3 separate regions of the Homo sapiens genome follow, and regions 1 and 3 are each linked to region 2. Evidence: fine-mapped QTL for protein levels in blood plasma. Region 2 holds a variant in brackets. A gene starts in each other region. All regions are shown on their forward strands.

Evidence for each region. PIP is the posterior inclusion probability: the model's chance that the variant is causal. Protein levels are from antibody-based Olink assays in UK Biobank. Linkage for the fine-mapping came from a reference panel and not from the study's own genotypes, which makes the PIPs less certain.
Region 1: it holds the start of GNLY, and the variant in region 2 is fine-mapped to the plasma level of the GNLY protein (UK Biobank, PIP above 0.99).
Region 3: it holds the start of GZMB, and the variant in region 2 is fine-mapped to the plasma level of the GZMB protein (UK Biobank, PIP 0.96).

The regions. Positions count from the first base shown.
Region 1 is chr2:85,693,295-85,696,050 of GRCh38, forward strand. It overlaps GNLY (granulysin), which reads left to right and starts at 1,064. Exons shown (of 5, transcript NM_006433.5): 1 at 1,064-1,176; 2 at 2,026-2,129; 3 at 2,664-2,756. The coding sequence starts at 1,125.
Region 2 is chr1:24,745,756-24,748,499 of GRCh38, forward strand. The region is part of intron 1 of CLIC4 (chloride intracellular channel 4); the gene reads left to right. Among named protein-coding and RNA genes, the nearest start is that of CLIC4, 1.7 kb to the left of the region's middle. RefSeq lists silencers at 1-3, 104-263 and an enhancer at 1-212. The variant A/G (reference allele first, on the strand shown) is at 2,326.
Region 3 is chr14:24,632,890-24,635,645 of GRCh38, forward strand. GZMB (granzyme B) reads right to left here and starts at 1,301. Exons shown (of 5, transcript NM_004131.6): 1 at 1,217-1,301; 2 at 26-173. The coding sequence starts at 1,271. It overlaps GZMH-AS1 (GZMH and GMZB antisense RNA 1), which reads left to right and starts at 213. Exons shown (of 3, transcript XR_007064087.1): 1 at 213-459; 2 at 1,407-2,756. RefSeq lists an enhancer at 680-1,879.

The sequences.
Region 1 (2,756 bases), not on the chromosome of region 2:
TTGGGAGGCCGAGGCAGGCGGATCACCTGAGGTCAGGAGTTCAAGACCAGCCTGGCCAACATGGTGAAACCCTGTCTCTACTAAAAACACACAAATTAGCAGGGCATGGTGGCGTGCACCTGTAATCCCAGCTACTCAGGAGGCTGAGACAGGAGAATCACTTGAACCCGGAGGTGGAGGTTGCAATCAGCCAAGATCACACCACTGCACTTCAGCTTGGGTGACAAGAGTGAAACTCTGTCTCAAAAAAGAAAAACAAAACAAAAACAAACAACAACAACAAAAAGCAAAGTGTCAGTGAAGGTCCAGCAAAAGACTCCCTTCCTATTGCCCTTTGCAGCCAGGGTCATCATGTGACACAGTTCAGATCAATGAGATGGAGGCTGAGGGTCCCTGGGAAAGATGTTTTTCCTATACAGGTACCACCTCTTTCAGCTTCACTCTTTCCATTTTCCACGTGAACAGGCCTTGTAGCCTGGAGGAGCTACAGCTGCCTTTTTGAGATGCTGAGGCACCCTGTCTGAAGAAGGCCCTCACATCACTCAACTTGACTACTGGGTGAGCCCTTGGAGAGGCTTCCCAGCCTCTGCTCTTCAAGCCGAAGTACCACAGGGGACACGAGTCCCAGAGTTACAGGACCCCAGCTATGGTTCATGTGTAAAGGGAACCATTAGGCAACCAGGGGAAATGATGAAGAAGATCTACATTTACAAATGTGGAAAGATGTTCGTGGTATATTGTTAAATTAAAAAGCTGTTTAAAAATAGTTTTTGGGTCAAGTGAGATGACTCACTTATACTTTTAGTATAAGTATGTCCCATGCAATATCTGGAACGTACTTGTACTAAGGGGTTTCTCCCTCCATCGGCACATCCCAGGCATCCTGGCAGCTGCTGGCCTCCAGCAACCCCACATTCTAGTTGTGTGGGAGTGGGGTGTGGCATGGACCCTGTGGGCTACCACTGCCCTGAGCTGCTTCTTCACACACTGGTATTTGTATCTGTGGTAAACCCAGTGACACGGGGGAGATGACATACAAAAAGGGCAGGACCTGAGAAAGATTAAGCTGCAGGCTCCCTGCCCATAAAACAGGGTGTGAAAGGCATCTCAGCGGCTGCCCCACCATGGCTACCTGGGCCCTCCTGCTCCTTGCAGCCATGCTCCTGGGCAACCCAGGTAAGGCCTTCCCCTCGGGATCGATCCTGATGGCCCACCCAGCCTCGCACTCTCAGGCTGGCTGAACCTGGAGCTTGGACTCTGTGGGCACCCAGGTGCCCCTGCCTCCCCCCGGCCTTCTCCCCCGTCATGGAGGCCTGGCCTCCCCTCAGAGCCAGGCTTAGTCCAGTGTGCTGCCCAGCCTGTCACTGGCCTGGCCAAGGAGGAGAGACAGGCCAGGGATTCTGGTCCTAACTCTACTGGCCACACTGTGTGGCCTGAGACCCCCCTTTCCCTCCCAAGCCCCTGCCTCCGCATCTGCGTGGTGAAGGCCATTGGCCCTCATCGGTGGATCTGCGTTTCCTCGGGCCTACACTGTCTAGGATTGTGCGGGGCTGGTGAGAGAACAAGATCTCTTCTGTGTTCAAGGCAGACTTCCTGCCCCCTGCACCCTGCTCTCTCCCAGGCCTTGAGGTCAGTGTGAGCCCCAAGGGCAAGAACACTTCTGGAAGGGAGAGTGGATTTGGCTGGGCCATCTGGATGGAAGGTAAAAAAAGAAAATCCCTTGAAAGGAGATTGAGGGAAGTTTCTAGACAAACCGACCCCCAAATCTGTGTTGCTGGGGGAACAGAGGAGAAGAGAGAGTCTCGCCCTCCTGGCTTTCTAGAAGGAACGTGAGAACACGTGTTTGTGCTGAGAGTGGGTCAGAGCGGCTCCAGGGCAAAGCATGTGGACAGGTATCCTGGCCCCCTGCAAGGCCCAGCTCCTGTCCTAGGCCCTGGTCACCTCCTGGACTCCCACCAGCCAGGAGAACGGGCTTTCCCTCTCCTTCCGCCTGCGGAGGGGAAGCTGAAGTCTGGTCTTCCTCAGGTCTGGTCTTCTCTCGTCTGAGCCCTGAGTACTACGACCTGGCAAGAGCCCACCTGCGTGATGAGGAGAAATCCTGCCCGTGCCTGGCCCAGGAGGGCCCCCAGGTACGTGTTGGCTCTCTGCTCACCTGCCACAGTCCCTCTCCTTTCCCTCCTCCCTGGTGGCTCCTGGGGTGAGGTCTGGAGCTCTCTAATGGTCAGGAGGTGGGAGTGGAGGCTGGGCTGTTTCTGACGATGCTGGTTTTGTTGAATTCATGTCTGGCCAGGAGGGCTACAGGTATCTGGCAGACTCCTCCAGGAGGATCCTCTGGGGTCTCACCCTCCAAGGAGCCTGGGGCTGCAGAACCCAAATAGGCAGACTCCCCTGGGAGTTCCTCAATAGGAGAGGGGCAAGTGCAGGGCTGGGAAAGTACTGGGGGTGTGGGAGGCTGTTTCTGGGGTGTCTCAGAGCCTCTAAGACAAGCAAAAGGGTGGGCAGGGGCCAGGCAGCCAGTTCAGGCCTTCAGTGTATCCACGCTCTGGGAAGAGATCACGGACATTCCTGCCGGCCTCAGAAACACAAAGGGCCCCTTTCCTGGGCACTTTCACGCGCTCCCAGAGTGTCTGAGAGACCATCATAAGGGCTTTCTTTCCTGACAGGGTGACCTGTTGACCAAAACACAGGAGCTGGGCCGTGACTACAGGACCTGTCTGACGATAGTCCAAAAACTGAAGAAGATGGTGGATAAGCCC
Region 2 (2,744 bases):
GCCCCCGGCCCATTGTCTGGGGGCCGCCCGCGCCTTCCCGCCTCCGAGGGCCCGTCGAGGGGTCCGGGTTGGGGACCCGGGCGGCGGCCACCGTCTCCAGCGCGTAGGCATCGGCGGACGCCAGACCAGCGTCCCGCGCCCGGGTGGGTCGGGAAGAGCCCACGGGCGGGACTTGCCTGCCCCGGGGCCCCAGCGCCGGGCGCGCGCGGGTCCTGTCACCACCCCCCGCCCGGGCGCCGGGGCCCGGCCCCACCCGCTCCCCAGCGCTCCGGTCCGCCGCCCGGAGCCCGAACTGCGGCCCGCCGCCCGATGAGCTTTCAAACGAACTTCTTTGAACGCGTTTTTGAAAAAGCATTTGCTCCCCACTGGTCTGAAACGGAAACTTTAATTTTCGATGCAATCTTAAACAAATTTACCAAAGAGCAGGTGCTCTTGGACCTTCGGAAAAGACCGAGATTCCCAACTTGTGTTTTTCTGTCTTGGGCATTTACTGGCTTTCTCGTTTCTCAAGCGCGGAGTGTTCTGTATGATGCAACATTTTGGCTTCTCCCCCCGGCGTTGCTGCTTCGGGAAGGATTGTGTGTGCCCTTTTGTTTTGAAAGAAATTGAGGGAGAGAATTCTTAACTTGCTTGGGCTTTAAAGGGTTGGTTTTCCCTTGTGTCTTCAGCTTTCATGTGTGGAATTTATTTGCTTACACATACTACCCCTCTTCCTTTGCTTTTCTCTTTAATACTTTTTATTTTAGCAAAGGAGAGAGTCGAAGTTATAAACATCTGGATCCAGCTCCTTCCCTCAAAACTTAAAAAAAACACTTTGAGCTTCTTCCAGCCACTTAAAAAGCCAGGCTCATTCAGAGCTAGGCAACATACCGGAAAGTAAATGGTCATCTAGAACTATTGGGTTCTTTTTTTTCCCCGAGTTTTTACTTTAAAGAAAGGACATTTCAGGATGTGTTTAAGAGATAGAGAAGGGCTGGGCGCGGTGGCTCATGCCTGTAATCGCAGCACTTTCGGAGGCCGAGGTGGGAGGATTACTTGAGTCCAGCCTGAACAAGATGGCGAAACCCTGTCTCTACAAAAAAATTCAAAAATTAGCTGGGAGCGATGTTACGCGCCTGTACTACTCTGGAGGCTGCGGTGGGAGAACTGCTTGAGCCCGGGAGGTCGAGGCTGCAGTGAGCCACGTCGCACCACTGCATTCCAGCCTGGGCGACAGAGCAAGACCCTGTCTCAAACAAAAGAGATGGAGAGAAGAAATAATCTGCATTTACCTCTGCAGTCTTCAGTAATGACTGGAACAGTGTTTGCCTTAGGATTTTCTTTCAATTGTCAATTTTCGATTTTTTTTTTTTTTTTTTTTTTGGTCCAGGGAACTGAAACAGCAGACAGGTATAGAACCCCCAAAATATCAAAGCGTTTCGGTTACTTTGAGTGGCAGATATAGTACTTTGAGATGCGTAGAATGTAGGAAGGAACCTGAAATACAAGAAAGGAAGGAGGCCGGGCGCGGTGGCTCACGCCTGTAATCCCAGCACTTTGGGAGGCTGAGGTGGGCAGATCACGAGGTCAGGAGATCGAGACCATCCTGGCCAACATGGTGAAACCCCATCTCTACTAAAAATACAAAAATTAGCTGGGCGTGGTGGCGCGTGCCTGTAGTCCCAGCTACTCGGGAGGCTGAGGCAGGAGAATTGCTTGAACCCGGGAGGCAGAGGTTGTGGTGTGCGGAGATTGCGCCACTGTACTCCAGCCTGGGCAACAGAGTAAGACTCCATCTCAAAAAAAAAAAAAAAAAAGAAAGAAAGGAAGGGTGGTGGGTGGAAAACAGCATGGAGAAGGGAAACAAGTGGGCCAGAGATGAGTTAAAAAAAATTTTTACTGAGTGAGGAATAGGAAGGAATTTCCATAAACTCAAAAAAAGTGCATCCATGAATAATCTGTAAAACATGATACTTAACGGTGAAACTTTAGAACAGTATTAAACTTAGAATAAGCTACTATCGGGCCGGGTGAGGTGACTCACACCTGTAGCATTTTGGGATGCCGAGATGGGGAGATCACTTGAGGCCAGGAGTTCGAGACCAGCCTGGCCAACATGGTGAAACCCTGTCTCTACTAAAAATAGAAAAATTAGCCAGGCATGGTGGTGGGCCCAGCTATTCGGGAGGCTGAGGCATGAGAATCGCTTGAACCGGGGAGGCAAAGGTTGGAGTGAGCCAAGATCAAGTCACTGCACTCCAGCCTGGGCGACAGAGTGAGACTTCGTCTCAAAAAAAAAAAAAAAAAGATAAAGCTATTATCAGTTATGGCTCTATTCAGTATTCT[A/G]TTATTCTATTGGAGGAGCTAATCAAAGAAGACAAGAAAAATTAAGTATCTGAATTAGGAAGAGATCAGTGATTAATGCCCTGCTTACTATTAATTTCATCTTTCAGTTAGAATAGCAGAGGGGCGTGTGCAGTTTTCCAAACTTGAGTCACTTGCATCCCCTTTCTGTTTTTCATATTTGTGTTGAGAACCACTGAAAATCATCCTTCCTACCACTAGTTGTAAGCCTTTCTCATTGGGCTTGGTGGCAGAGAATCAGGGTTCAAGTCACAGTTCTTTACTCCTTGGTTGGGTGACCCTAGGCAGTTTGTTTTCACTCTTTAAGCCTTGTTTGTCTCATTTGTGAAATAAGAAATGTTTTCTGCTACCCAGTGATTCAACATAGGCAAACTTTGCACTGATACAGATCAGGTTTTTTG
Region 3 (2,756 bases), not on the chromosome of region 2:
GTGTGGGCTGTTTTCTGCTCCTCACCTTCCCCAACAGTGAGCAGCTGTCAGCACGAAGTCGTCTCGTATCAGGAAGCCACCGCACCTCTTCAGAGACTTCTGATCCCAGATCATAAGATAAGCCATGTAGGGGCGGGAGTGGGGCTTGGCCTCATGTCCCCCGATGATCTCCCCTGAAGGAAAAGTCTGTCTGCTTGTGGGCACCCATGGAATCTGCTGGGTGGGCACCTGCTTAGTGGCTCCAGAACTCCTGGGCATTTGGGAGCCTGGGATAGCCTGGAGTTGGGAGTGGCCTGGAGGAAGGGGCTTCAATTTCCTGCTCTGAAAAAGGGAAGAACAGCAGACTTTGGTCTGTAAATCTTTCTTCCATATGTAGTTGAAGGCGAGCATACCTGTCTTAGGGACAGTGAAATCCCAGAGGCTCCTGATCATTCCTCTCCTGACTTTGCTTTGTTTCAGGTGAGTTTCCAAGACCCTTATGAGTCCTGTGGTGTCTAGGATAGTGCTGCTTTCTAATGGCCAGGGTGTAAGTGGAGGGATCTAGATACTGTCATATCCTGTTTCCTAGAGCCTGACATGTAGTGGGTGCCCAGTAAATGTTCATGGCTGCATGATGGACTGGCTCCAGTTAGCCTCTGGATGAGGGCTGGTAGAGCAGTGCTGGTGGAATTCTAGAAAGCAGGGAAGCTGGGGCCTGCCGTAGTGCCTCATCCTTGGAAAGAGGGGAGCCACCAAAGGCCAGGGAAGAAAAGCAGAGTTGGAGAATGGGACTGAGCAAACACATTAACAGTGTTCTGAGGACAGTGATTGTACCAATTCTGCTGTCAGCTGAGCTCTGGGTTTCTCTCCTAAGTAGACAGTGAGAGAAGCACCTGTCTTATCCCAGAAACAGAAGCCAGGCCTACTCTAGAATAATTTAATATTTCTCTTTTCTAGTTTCCCATCCTCTGCCATTTACTTCTAGGAAAGTCCTACTCTCCAGGTGACAAAGGTGGGCTCTGGGGAAGGGATAGTACCCACTGGCTCTTCTTGAGAATGGCCTGCTGCTCTGCCATTCCTGCTGATAGCTTATCCAGCATCACACTTGGGGGGTCTTGGTAGAATGGGAGCTGGAGTTCAGAACATTCCTGGTAGATAGATGGATCAGGAATGTGGAGAAAGGGCAGGAGACCTGTGGGATGGGGTTGGGCCCCCGAGGGTGGAGACGGTCACTCACCTGCATCTGCCCTGGGCAGCAGGAGGAAGGCCAGCAGAAGCAGGATTGGTTGCATCTTCTCAGGAAGGCTGCCCTGGTTGGAGCTGCTGTTGTTTCCTCCTTGCTCTCTTTTAGCTCTTGGGAGAGGAAAGAGGTGGAGCAGGCTCAGTGACTTCATGTTCCCCTCTGGTTTTGTGGTGTCTCATCACAGATTTTCTGTAAATGCTGCCCACCCCCACTGCCTCTGCCTGATGACGTCCTCTGGGTGCTTGTGTGAGAATCATGCAGTGACCACATCATCACCCACAGCTGATGACTCAGAGTGGACCACCTATTCAGCCCAGAGCAGGAACCCAAGCCTATGAAGTGAATTGTAGGATGTGGTATCAGCCAGTAGAGGTACTGGAGCACCAGAAACCTGAGTTCCCAGTGATAGAACCGCCAATGCCTCATGGCCATGCTGCTAAATCCATCAGGATAGTTTCTTTAGCAGGTATGTGTTTGAGCCCTTCTGTTGTGCTAGAACCAAGCATGTTGGAGATGTGTCTCCTTCACTTAGAGAGCTGACCATCTGGTTGAAGAGACGGAAATGCCAGGAGCCAGAGTACAGTTTGGGGAGGGCTATGGTAGCACAATACACAAGGCAGTAACAAAGCATGGCCACCATCTACTAGACCCATCTAGCAACCCATTTATTATCATAGCTTCCTTTCTAGAGAATTTCTAACATCCCTTATTTAGTTACAAATGTTTAGTGTGAGAGTCCACCTCTTTTCTGAATGCTTTCAATAAAAGTCCTGTACTTGACATTTTATTGGGCTAGATTAATGAATTGCTAGGAGTCAAATCCACTTTGGGTAGGCTGGGGTCAGTCTACTCAAGCCACTAGAACCAAGAATGAGAAAGGGCTGGTTCTCTAAAGGACGTTTGTGGTGCTAAATTGCTGATACCATATGAAGTGAGGAAGCATGCCAGGCAGCCAAAGATCAGTAGTTGTGTTGTTTAGTATTCTGTCTCCTGTCCAGAGAGCCACACTTCTTACATAGCAGGCTCAGCACATAACAGGCTCACAGTAAACATTTGCTAAACAAACTACACTAATGCTATCATTATAATGGATGTGAAAGATTGTTGTTTCTGAACAGCCCGTGCCCAATTCTGTTAAAAGACAACTAAGTCTCTCTACATGGTTCGATTCTTGTGATTTGTTTCCACCTTTATATTTTCTGTGAGGAAATTTTTCTATGAGGAATGGTATATCTCAAAATATAGAATTCCAGTGTAAACGTCTTCCTTGTCAATAGCAAGCCAACTACATTTATCAAACTTCTATTTTTTGAACCTAGCTTGCCCCATAGTAGACGTTTTAAAAATAATTTTTTCTGATTATAGTCATAATATATGTTTGTTAAGAAAATTTGGAAAGTAGGAAGGGAAAATATCACTTTTTAACCTGTCTCCCACAGACTGACTGTTACCATAAGCAGTGTGTTTTAAATACTTGGGATCACATTGTACATACAATGCAATTTATTTTATCCTTGATTAACCCTACAAATTA